3 separate regions of the Homo sapiens genome follow, and all the other regions are reported to be linked to region 1. The links are microRNA targets in miRTarBase. Many come from high-throughput screens and were not tested one by one. Region 1 holds a microRNA gene; each other region holds the end of a gene's coding sequence.

Region 1 (4,243 bases):
TCTACCTGTCCACTGCCTAAGTGCTCCGTGCATAGCAGGTACTCGGTATGTTTGTGTCAAATGAATAAAAACAACAGATCAAGTGATCTGAGGACTTAACCAAAGATATTCTACTAAAGGGTATCAGACCAAATGACTTACTAATAGCAAATGAACAAAGAAGAGGAGTTAGCATGTTCTCTCCTGAAAAATTCTTCTCAAAGTGCCAATGCTTCCTCAAAGTGGTTTAATTACCTTAGCCAAAGTAGTTAAATCAAAAAGAAAAATTAATATGATATGCTGTCGTGGTGCTGTGATGTGCCTTAAATGAACTCTCCAAGACCCAGTAAACATGAGCCTTCATTACTGTCTCTCTCTATTACTTACCACCAGCCAGGAGGTAGGTCGTATCACACCCATTTTACAGACAAGGAAGCTGAGGCTCAAAGAAGTTAAGGACTGACCCAGCGACATAGCTAGTGAATGTCAGAGTTGGGATTCAAACCCACAAACCAGCATGCTTTCCCCCACTCCTGGGAAATGGGACATGTCACAGCTTACAGATGTTTGGGACTGATAGAGACCAAGCAAATAGGCAGTCCCAAATGTTGACCCGATATCCTCCCACCAATCAGGCCTTCAGGAGCTTTACAAAACATTCAGCACGCTTGTATTCACAACTGACTTTTCAGGAGCCTCGAAACAGTGAGGTGAAAATAGGGTTCAGCCTAACCTGTCATTCATGCCATTATCAAACTTAAGTTTTCCAACTTCCCATTCCTTCCCTCACCCAGTCCCTCCCACAGGGACAATTCAGAGCCATTAAAACCATTCCCAAATCTCTCTCTCCTTACTGGAGACCCTATAAGCAAATTCACTGAAGAATACTGAGGGATTTGGGGTTGATTTGATTTGAGAATAATCTGAACCTATATCATAGCCATTCCCGTGTTGGCCTCTCCTACTCCAGCTCCTCAAAGCAAGAGCCCCTCCCGACGCCCAGCCTGTAGAAGGTGGTTGTAGAACTAAAGTGAATTAAACTTGGCATATGAAGGTCAAGGGAGTAAATCTAAGAATTACGTGAATGTGCTTGGTATAGCTTGGGAAAAGATGCAGCTTCATCCAAGAGCCGTGAGATTTACTGACATGGAAGCCTTCCAGTGGGGACTCTAATACTCAGCTTTGAAGAATATAGTGTATACATTAAAATATTTACCGGCCAGGAGAAGAACTGGGTCACCAAATGGAGTCCCCCAAACCAATGGCCCCAGCAGCCAACCCATTCCCTCTTTTAGAGAATTCTGGCCCATCTGCAGAAACATGCCCAGACAGCATGCCTACTTCCGAAAGTATAAGATCCCTGTCCAAGTACAAATCAGTTGTCAACCTGACAGGTTAGTGCACCATCAGGCACATCTAAGACAAAAAGGGCCCTTTAGAGACCACCTAGTCCAATGACTTTCACAGAAGGAAAGAGAATGAATCTACGTGGTTAGGGAAAGTATCCTCAAAACTGATTCTGACTGAGCAAGAGAAATGGCAGGACGCAAAGTGCTATAATCTGGATGTTTGTGTCCCCACTAAAATTCATGTTAAAATATTAACCCCCAAGATAATCATTTTAGAGGGTGGGGACTTTGGAAGGTGATTTGGTCATGGGGGTAGAGCCCTCTTAAATGGAATTAGTGCCCTTATAAAAGACGTCCCAAAAAAGACCACTTACCCCCTCCACCATGTGAGGACATAGCAAGAAGGGACTGTCTATGAACCAGAAAGCAGGGCCTCACCAGACACCAAATCTGCCAATGCTTTGGTCTTGGACTTCCCAGCCTCCAGAACTGTGAGGAATAAATTTCTGTTGTGTATAAGCCACCCAGTTTATGGTATTTTGTTGTAGCACCCTGAACAGATTAAGACACAAACCTCAAACATAATCCTCCTGGCCAGTGGGGTATGCTGCCCACCCACTGAGAGCATGAGAGACGGGAAGGGAGAAGAGAGAAAGGGAGAGTAAGGGAGAGAAGGGGAAGGGAGGAGAGGAGATGGGAGGGGAGAGGAGGGGAGAAGAGGGGAGGGGAGGGGAGGAGGTGCCAGGTATTAAAAGATTAAACCACCTCATCCCTAACCCCATTTTGCAGGTAAAGAAATGGACGTGCAGGATAGAAGGTGATCTGTCCAAGGACACACTGCTGGCTATAGGCCGAGTTGCAGCTAAAATGAAGATCTCCTGATTCCTGGCCTCATCCCTTTCTCTTTTTGCATGTGATTTACATACAAATATATATAGAAAACCGAGACAAGTTTTATTTTAAAAGTACTATCCTTACTATGTGTGACAAACTAACATTTTCTATTGTTCTTTTATGAACTACTAGTCACAACTCATTAAATCCATTTTACAACACACCCGTGGGTCATGGTGCATGCTTTGAAAACGTCTGACTCAGATATCTGGAAAGAGTCAAGTCAAGGCCAGAAGTCCCACAGGTGTGCTTTCCAGCCCTGCTGTGGGACCTCTGGCCTTGACTTGACTCTTCCTTTAAGTTCAATTTGAGGGTGCTTATGAATGGAATATGTTAAACATTGATAAAGAGAACTCATGGCTTCCACAGCTAAAATTTCCCTCCCACAATGTTCACCATCACAGTGGATGCCACCATCATGCCCCTAGCTGTGACCAAACAGTGAGGAATTTTCTTAAATTCCCTTTTCTGTCTGCTATGCCCCACCCATCAGCATGTCTCTGTCCTCACCGCCCTGGTACAAGCCATCATCGCCTTCCCCTTGGGCTATGACAAAAACCTCTTAACTGGTATCCCTGCTGCCACCCTGGCCTCCCTACTCTATTCTCTACCAGCGGCCAGAATAATCTTCTAGAAACGTAAATCAGATCATAACAGCCTTCCTGCTCCAAAGACCTGCCACCATCTTAGAACAAAATCCAAAGTCTTTCCACGGCCCAGAGGCCCCCCATGATATAGCCCCGCCTGCCTCTGCCCCTCCTCCACCATACTGGTCATCTTGCTCTTTCTCCAAAAAACCAAGCATGAGCCTCAGGGCCTTTGCACTCACTGCTCTGTCAGCCTGGAGTCCCTCTCCCAACACCAACAACTGTTCTCTTCTTTACTCTGCCCTCTGACCGCATCATCAGGTCCCCAGAGAGAGCTTCCCTGGACACACTGTCTCCCATGGCCTCACTTCCTCTCTCTCCTGTTCCTCCCATTCTTTGCTATATTCTTTTTTTTTTTTAAGACAGGGTCTCGTTCTCTCACCCAGGCTGGAGTAAAGTGGTGCGATATTGGCTCACTGCAACCCCCACCTCCCATGTTCGAGCAATTCTTGTGCCTCAGCCTCCCAAGTAGCTGGGATTACAGGCGTGTGCCACCATGTCCAGCTAATTTTTGGCATTTTTAAGTACACAGGGTTTCACCATGTTGGCCAGGCTGGTCTTGAACTCCTGGCTTCAAGTGATCTGCCCGCCTCAGTCTCCCAAAGTGCTGGGATTACAGGCATGAGCCACTGCGCCCCGCCTGCCATATGCTTCTTCAAGGCATTGATTCTCTCCTGTCTTTTTATCTTAAATGCTTTATTGGCTGTTGTCTGTTGCCACCACGAGACCCTAAGTTTCATGAGCAAAAGGACTTGGACTGTCTTGTCTATCACAATATCCTCGGTTCCTAAAAGGGGCCTAAATTCAGGGCTGAATGAATAAATGAATGAATGGAAGTGCCTTTCCCAAAAGACAGGAAACTAAACCGTTTTGAAATACAGTCACCCCAGTCCAAGGTCTTCTAAACTTTCCTGATAAGAGTCATCCGAGGTACTTATTTAAAAAACATATATTCCCAGCCCTTCTGAATCAGATTCTCCTACAAAGGGGCCTGGGAAGCTTCAAGCTTGATGAGCACCCCAGGGGATTTGTATCTTGGAAGAGTCTGGGGATGCTGGATCAGCTAGACATGAGGAACAGGTGCGCACATAGACAGCGCACGTGCAGGCCATCTGGAGAAGAGGAGGGGGAGAAACTGTGCCAGATGGGGCCAACGAGGCCAGGGGCCTGGGTGTAGGTACTTACAAGGGTCATGCGGCACCTAATAGCCAAGGGACGGGCCAGCTAGGGTGAGGCATCTTCATTTATTTATTTATTTATTTATTTAATTTTGAGACAGAGTCTCGCTTTGTTGCCCAGGCTGGAGTGCAGTGGCGCCATCTTGGCTCACTGCAGCCTCCTCCTCCCGGATTCAAGCAATTCTCCTGCCTCAGC
Region 2 (4,243 bases), not on the chromosome of region 1:
GAGGCTAATAGAGCAATGATCCCTAAGTACTCATTACTATGAAATACAGAGTTCTACAAGATTAAGAAATAAAAAAGACATTAGATTTTTGCCCTAAATGACAGGTAATAAATCTAAACTTAGGAACATTTCCTCACAGTTCAAAAAGTTCTGCCCACCTTGATTAACTTGTTTTCTGAATACCTTTAGTTGCTGGCTTAGTGGAGAAGGCCATTGGTTTGATATGCAAAAAAAAAAAAAAAGATTTTTTTCTGATTGTGCTATTTCATTCATGTGGCTTGGCTTAAAAGAAGATGTTTCACTTTAGTAGGAAGACCAATTCAAACATCATTTACAACTGACGTTTATTCAGTATGAGTCATGAACTGAAACTTGGTGTGGGATCTGGTGGAATTATGGGCTAGCTTAAAGGGTAATGTGGCAAATCATTGGCCTAATTCTGTGGGAATCACCAGTGTCCTCCCAAGGCATATATTCATGAATGAAAGAAGATAAGAACCCAGTCCTTTGCTAAATCTGGCGTCTCTGGCCAAATCTAAACGGCTTAAATAATCCTCATCCAAATATCTTATTTTGGCCAATCGTTTCTACCTTCCTTATAAACTCTAAATCAGAACTTGACACATTGTCAAATCAACCCATTTAACTTTCATTTTTAGTTTTCTTGCCACTTTACTCAGGGAGAGATAAAAACGTGAAATGATTAAAAGACCGAGAAAAAGAAAGGCCAGGAAGAACCCATGGCCTAATCTAAGTAATCCATCAAAAAAGATAATTGGCCCTGTAAATTCAAAAAATATTAATATAATTCAACAGATTTAATAAAAGCACACAAAGGGAGAAAAAGCCTTCTATGGGCAAAGAAGCACAAAATCCTTTGAGGATGTAGTCTATACAAAGCCATAAGAAAATATCATTATCAGCAAACTATTATTTCATAGATTTTCCCAAGCCTGACTCCATGACATGAGTATCATGCATTTTCACTGGAAACTGAAAAAAGTTTTGCCATATATTTAATAACTTTATTGAATGAAGAAAAAGATCACACCAAAAATGGAGGAATACATCAACCCTGGTGGTCTTAGTAGACCGAGCCAAATTAAACTATATGATAAAGCAATTTCTCTTTTTTCATCCACCACTAAATGAGAGTTCATTTTTATCTAAAGAAGGCTCATCTTAGCAAATATTGCCATGACAATAAGACTGTTAGGCAAACCAATAAATTTAGGTTCTGGCCTGGGTTAAGATGACTGTATTTAGTGTCCTTTCTCAAGTTCTACTTGAAGGAATTTCTGTTTAATCAAAAAAAGCTCCCCCAACCACTACCACCCCACCTTGGCACTTAAATGTTTATTTGACTAATATTTATTGCACCTACAATATTGTCAGGGATTGTTTTCAAACTTCAGATATATTAGTAGACAAGTATCCATAAGGCCTAATCTGGAATTCATACAACTAAGAAAAAAAGAAACAAAGTCCCACATTCTCATGTGTTCCTGCTGATGGGCTGTGGATGGGTAAGTTATGGAAAGGCTGGGAGGAGCAACAAGGAAGATAGAGGCCAAGACCAGAGCTTTTTAATCCCCTTCTGAGTCTGGCCAAGGGTATATAGAGAAGGCTAAACCCTAGGGAATAATACAAGTGTGACCCTAAAAGGTATTATTTTGCAACTAAATCAGTCCAATCTAACACAGCCATTTCCTCTAAGTTCACAAAGCAACTTTATTTTCAACACACTTGCAACTGTGAGACAAAGTTGGGTCATCATGTGCTGGGGACACTGGATTTTTGCCCTAAATGACAGGTAATAAATCTAAACTTAGGAACATTTTCTTACAGTTTAAAAAAAATTCTTCTGCCCTCCTTGATTAACTTGTTTTCTGAATACATTTAGTTGCTGGCTTAGTGGAGAGGATGGGGAGGGAAAGGCAACAATTATTATAAATTATTTTGGTTTTTATTAAAATGACTTTTCTTTCCTGCAGAGACAGATTCTAAAAGAAAAACAAGTCAAACTTCTGGGATGCCTTTCTCTTTCCCACAGGATCAGGAAAAACACAGTGAGGCCAACCAAAAGTATCAGCCCCTTAAAAAATATGCATAATCTCATGTGCAAGACACTGGTCAATCTAGAACCTGCTAGAGAAATGCCAGAAATGCTTTATCCACATCATGTCTCTACATGACTAATTTCTTTACAATTAAATAGCTTTCAAACATCAACATATCAGAACTGAGATTGTCACCATCTACAGCAACAGTGGAATTACACATCATATCCTTATTCCATTACTCATCCCTCAGTTATGCTAAGCAGCAAGCTACAGAAACATCTGACAGCATCAACAGCATACAGGTTTAATTATTTTCCCAATTTGCATTTATATCAGTGAACAAATTGGAAGCTATCAAAGTATGGCACTGAAGAAAAAGAAACACATATTCAGCAGCACATCTCCCATTTTGAGTCCTGTTTTTAAATTGGCTAAGTAAAGGCATATACACCTCCATTTGAATTGGAGATTTGCAGTAACACAGGCATATAAGGATGGGAGGGAAGGAGGGAGGGAGGGAGGGAAGAAGAAAAGGAGAGACCAGAAAAATAGAGAGGAAAAGAGAAAGAAAAAAGAAAGAACATATGGTTAAGCGTCTGAAGGTAACATTATTACAAGAAGGAGGGGATAAATGACAGTTCAATCTGCTTCCACGAGCAGAATTTTTCTAAGGTTATCATCGAAGATATAAAAATGGGTCGTGAGACTTTTCATCTGTTGCTATTCTCACTTATCATACTAAAAAATCTACAAAATCCTAAGCCTTGGTCTGTCCAAGATGGAGAGTACCAGGAAGTAAAAGATGTGACCTACTATCAAGGACTGTGCTCTGCTAGGAGCCCTGCACTACAGTCCATTAATCCACAGTATTTTGGTCATATCTGGTCTGTTTCCTCATACTACTCAAAATGTGTTAGAGCTAAGTTTTTATATTAGAATGTCATCAACCATTTGTTTATTTTTTTCATTTTGCAAACGTTTTCATTTACATAAAGGGCTGGAGAGACAAGAAAGTGGTAGAGATTCAGAGGGGAACATAAAAGGAAAAGTATTCTCTTTTCCCAAAAATCCACCTTTAAAAAGGTAGTAATGAGACTTTGAGAAAGAGTGCTGATTCATGGACTTCCCCCATTTTTTTATTTCTATATAACACATTTAAGGACATTAATGTACTAAAACGTTTGGTCTGTGAAATAGCGGAATCATTAGCACCAAAAGGAGTTATGGAGCTTGTATATATTATTAAAACAATGATTGTTACTGTTGGTCATGGGTAAAGGTTTCATTTCATTTTTACATCCCAAAGTTCTTGAAAGTGCCTGTGGACAAGAGAAATAACACTTTTCAAAATCTCCATGGGGTCGTCAATACGCACCACAGAGACTGTACTTGGCCTTCCCAGTTTTGGTTTATCTGGTAGACAAGAAAACCAGGGCCCCCAGATGATTACCACCGAAGCCCTAAAGAAGAGTTCCCACATGCACCCACTGATGTGCAGGAGGGATCCCTACAGTACATTTCCCCCCGGACTCTGTTTAGGAATGCGCTTTTACTTGCTTTTTAAAAAAACAAAAGCAACATGCTCTGCAGATCATGGAGTGCCTAGTGCAATTTTCTCCTTGCTCCAACTCCAGACTGGAAAAGGGTGAAACCATTATATGTTCTGCTAATGCTGGCCTGTGGTCGAGGCCCTTGGCCTGCCATGCTTTGTAAGCTCAGGAGCCCACAGGAGTCAGAAGGTCAGAGAGCGGGAGCCACAGTCATCGCCAGATCTCCCCAGCATCTCATGGCCCATCAGGGCAGTTGCTGATTCCTTTTCTTCTCCGTGCCTCAGCCTTTAGTTGAAATTACAACAAGTCAAATAGCTGATGCTTTTCCCTTCTCCAGGTAAGGGTGAGGATACATTGTTCACAAGTGTGTTCTGTCTGGCTTCACTGATGAGTCGGCATGCTAAGTCAAGGAAGAGTTTCTCCACATTATCAGATTCCTTGGCTGAGGTCTCCAGATAATACATGTCCTGAGCTTCTGAGAATTCTTCAGCTCGCTGCTGGGAAACCTCTCTCCTTTCAGCCAGGTCAATCTTGTTGCCTATAACAGTAGTAAAATCAAATAAAGAATCAGCATTTGACTTTTTGCAGGCTGAGAAGCATCAAAATTCAACTCCATATCTGAAGTCAAGC
Region 3 (4,243 bases), not on the chromosome of region 1:
GCCCAGCTAATTAAAAAAAAAACTTAGGGACAGGATCTCATTATGTTGCCCAGGTTGGTCTCAAATTCCTGGCCTCAAGTCATCCTCTTGCCTTGGCCTCCCAAAGTGCTGGGATTACAAGCATGAGTCATCGTGCCCAGCCAAGACTTGCAGTTTGAAGGCCAGGTGCTGGAATTTCAGGCTACCGTTATTCTCAAAAAGAATGGCTTGTTGAGCTTAAGTTTAGTGGCAGTAAGGGATAAAGAACAGTGAAACAAGGAGCATATAGTATTAATCAACTACAGACAACTGCCCTATTTGTAAATAGAAGCAGGGAAATAATATATATGTGTAGTAGCTTATAAATGCGTAAAAATTATCTGGGAGGATAAGCAAATGTCTCTCAAACATCTAAAAGCTTCCTTCAGGCTGGGTGCGGTGCTTCATGCCTATAATCTCAGCAATTTGGGAGGCCGAGATGGGTGGATCACTTGAGCCCAGGAATTCGAGACCAGCTTGGGCAACATGGTGAGACCCCGTCTCTACAAAAAAATACAAAAAAGGCCGGGCGCAGTGGCTCACACCTGTAATCCTAGCACTTTGGGAGGCTGAGGCAGGCGGATCACGAGGTCGGGAGGTGGATCACGAGGTCGGGAGATCGAGACCATCCTGACTAACATGGTGAAACCCCGTTTCTACTAAAAATACAAAAAATTAGCCAGGTGTGGTGGCACACATCTGTAGTCCCAGCTACTCGGGAGGCTGAGGCAAGAGAATCACTTGAACCCGGGGAACAGAGGTTGCACTGATCCGAGATCGTGCCATTGCACTCCAGCCTGGGAGACAAGAGCAAGACTTCATCTAAAAAATAAAATAAAATAAAATAAAATAAAATAAAATAAGCCGGGTGTGGTGGCATATGCCTGTGGTCCCAGCTACTTGGGAGGCTGAGGTAAGAGAATCACTTGAACCCGGGAAGTTGAGGTTGCAGTGAGCTGTGATCTCACTACTGTACTCCAGGCTGGATGACAGTGAAACCCTGCCAAAAAAAAAAAAAAAAAACCTTATTTCATAAATACGGCTCATGCCTGTAATCCGAGCACTTTGGGAGGCCAAGGTGGGAGGATCACTTGAGCCCAAGAGTTTGAGACCAGCCTAGGCAACATAGAGAGATCTCATTTCTACTGAAAATTTTAAAAATTATCCAGGCATAGTGGCGCATGCCTGTAGTCCCAGCTACTCAGAAGGCTGAGGCAGGAGGATAGCTTGAGCCTGGGAGGCTAAAGCTTCAGTGAGCCGTGATGGCACCACTGCACTCCAGCCTGGATGACAGAGCAAGACCCTGTCTCAAAAACAGTTAAAAATTAAAAATTAAAGAATTAGAAATACACACACACACACACACACACACACACACACACGTATGTGAAGTGTAATGGCAATACCATTTTTTCTATGAGGTTGACAAAAATCTGTTGCATTGCTCAGGCTGTTGACAAGGCTGTGGTGAAAATGGCACTCACATACTCATGCTAGCTTCTCCTTGCTCTTGCTTGGACCAGCCATGCTCGTTCCTACCTCGGGGCCCTTGCACCTGTTGCTCCCTCTGCCTGGAACACCCTTTGCCAAAATAACCATGAGGCTTGCTCCTTTCAGCCAACCTAGGACCAAATTCATTGCCCCCTCCTTAGTGAAGTCTCGCTGAATGCCTCCTCACCCACCACCTCCCCACACCACTCTCACATCGCTCATTTTCTTCATTGCACCATCTTTATGAGGAATGATTTCTCTTTTATTCTCTTTGTTAGGTCAGAGGTCAGCTAACATTTTCTGAAAAGGGCCAGAGAGTTAATAGCTCAGGCTTTGCAGGCCATATGGTCTCTGTTGCAAATCCTCAGCTCTGCACGAGAAAGCCACAAACAATATGTAAATGAAGAAGACACTGTAAATGATATGTAAATAATTTAGACACTGAAATTGATATGTAAATGATTTAGACACTGAAATTTGAATTTCACATAATTTCCAAGTGTCACAGAATATTATTTCTTTTAATAATATTTTTTCATTTTCTTTTCTTTTTTTTGAGACAGAGGCTGGAGTGCAGTGGTGAGATCTTGGCTCACTGCAACCTCTGACTCCCAAGTTCAAGCGATTCTCCTGCCTCAGCCTCCTGAGTAGCTGGGATTACAGGCGCGTGCCACCATGCCTGGCTGATTTTTGTATTTTTAGTAGAAACGGGGTTTCACCACGTTGGCCAGGCTGGTCTAGAACTCCTTACCTCAGGTGATCTGCCCGCGTCGGCCTCCCAAAGTGCTAGGATTACAGGCATGAGCCACCACACCCAGCCCCTTTTCTTTTTGAGACAGGGTCTCACTCTGTCACTCAGGCTAGAGTGCAGTGGCGTGATCATAGCTCACTGCACCCTCAATCTCCCGGGCTGAAGCGATCCTCCCACCTCAGTCTCCCAAGTAGCTGGGACTATAGGCTTGCACTATCACACCCGGCTATTTCTTTTAATATTTTTTGTAGAGATGGGGTCTTGCCGTGTTGCCCAGGCTGCTCTCAAATGATCCTCCTGCCTCAGACTCCCAAAGTGCTGGTGATTACAGGCATAAGCCACCATGCTGGATCCACCTTTTTTCAATCATTTAGAAATATGAAAGCCAGTCTTAGTTCAAGGGCCATACCAAAATAGGCAGCAGGATGGATTTGCCCACTCGTGTGTCAGAACATCAACTCCAGGGCACTATTGTCTGCTTGGTTCACTGCTATATCCCCAGCACCTAGAATAGTGCCTGGCACCCAGTAGGCTTTCAGGAGATGTTTACCGAGTGAATGAGTGAAGTCTTTTTCTGTGTGTGAGATGGAGTCTCACTCTGTCGCCCAGGCTGGAGTACAGTGGCACAATCTCGGCTCACTGCAACCTCCGCCTCCTGGGTTCAAGCGATTCTCCCGCCTTAGCCTCCCAAGTAGCTGGGACTATAGCGTGCACCACCACACCCAGTTAATTTTAGTATTTTTTAGTAGAGACGGGGTTTTGCCATGGTGGCCAGGCTGGTCTCAAACTTGTGATTTCAAGTGATCCGCCGGCCTCAACCTCCCAAAGTGCTGGGATTACAGGCGTGAGTCACTGCTCCTGGCCAAGTGGGTGAAATATTAAGTTGAGTAGCAAGTTACTGAAAGAGTGAAGTGAATGAATGCATGATCAGGCACAGTCCCACTCGCAGGGCTTCAGTTTGCTCCAGCCTGGACTCCGGCAGGCTCCCCCAGCAAGACTAAGAGAAAGATCAGAAGGCTGAGTCCAGAGTGGTAGCTCAACATCTTTATTTTTCCTCTTTAGCCCGAGGGTAATCCTGACAAACAGCTTCAGCCAGGAGGAGGCAGAGAGGACTGGGCTGGGCAAAGGCTCCACCAGGACCTGGCCTCCTCCTCCTCCTCCTCCTCCTCCTCCTCCTCCTCTTCTTCCTCCTCCTCCTCCTCCCATGGGGTTGGGGTTGGGATTAGGGCCATGATCCAAGCTTGGCATCCCTGGGGAGGAGGGAAGTGGGCCAGTCTGCAGCCTCTGCTGTCCCCCGCCTCTGACAACCACGTTCATGGGAACCAGCCACCTCCACATGTTGGGCAGGAGGGACCCTAGGGAGCGGCCCTGACCCCTCCATGTGCATGCGCACAGGGACCTGGGCCAGCAGGGCCTGATCAGTGTCCAGACATGCGGCTCTGGCCTGTGGCCCAGTTGGCAAACATAAAGCCTAGACTGACGGCCATGAAGAGGACTCCCAGGACTCCAAAGCACAGGGCCTGTGGGCCAGAGAGACAAGATGGGGCTGGTTGGGACTCCTCACCCAGTTGCCTTCTGAGAATGTTCCTCAAGTCTTCCACCTCCTTCAGAGAGTGCTCCATCCATTCCTGACCCTCCTCTGTATGCCCTCTCCTTCCTTACAGCCAGCCCCTTTCTGCGAGTCCTTCCACCTTCCCAGGACCCATGACAGAATACGTTCCTCCATCCTCCTTCTTCAAAGTGCTTCCAGCTCTCTTCCCAATAGTGCTCTTTCCATCTGTCTGGAGAATGCTCCCTCTATGCCAGCCTCTGTTTGAGTGCTCCCTGTCTTCCTGGACCCTGCTGGTGCTCTGTCTCCTCTGCCCCTTCCTAGACAATCACCTTCATTCTTCCAGACCATTCTTTCAGATGCTCTCCCAGCCCCCTCCTATGCATGTCCCTTTCACCTCCAGCCATCCTGGAGTGAGCACTCCCTCCTTGGAG

The links. The annotated mature microRNA hsa-miR-3922-3p reads UCUGGCCUUGACUUGACUCUUU and lies in region 1 at 2,435-2,456, opposite strand. An mRNA with a match to its seed (bases 2 to 7 or 8) in the 3' UTR can be bound and repressed. Matches are read on the target gene's strand: a 7mer-m8 pairs with bases 2 to 8, a 7mer-A1 pairs with bases 2 to 7 and ends in A, and an 8mer does both.
Region 2: the mRNA of RAB30 is a reported target of hsa-miR-3922-3p. Seed matches in the 3' UTR shown: 7mer-m8 at 3,736-3,742, 7mer-A1 at 1,603-1,609, 8mer at 1,237-1,244 and 7mer-A1 at 525-531.
Region 3: the mRNA of SLC38A5 is a reported target of hsa-miR-3922-3p. Seed matches in the 3' UTR shown: 7mer-m8 at 3,401-3,407.

What each region holds. Positions count from the first base shown.
Region 1 is chr12:104,589,907-104,594,149 of GRCh38, reverse strand. It overlaps MIR3922 (microRNA 3922), which reads right to left and starts at 2,517; the gene lies at 2,434-2,517. All of the region lies in intron 1 of CHST11 (carbohydrate sulfotransferase 11), which reads right to left.
Region 2 is chr11:82,978,265-82,982,507 of GRCh38, forward strand. It overlaps RAB30 (RAB30, member RAS oncogene family), which reads right to left. Exons shown (of 5, transcript NM_001286060.2): 5 at 1-4,151. The coding sequence ends at 3,901. Among named protein-coding and RNA genes, the nearest start is that of SNORA70E, 61 kb to the right of the region's middle.
Region 3 is chrX:48,455,255-48,459,497 of GRCh38, forward strand. SLC38A5 (solute carrier family 38 member 5) reads right to left here. Exons shown (of 17, transcript NM_033518.4): 17 at 3,290-3,780. The coding sequence ends at 3,679. Among named protein-coding and RNA genes, the nearest start is that of SLC38A5, 13 kb to the right of the region's middle.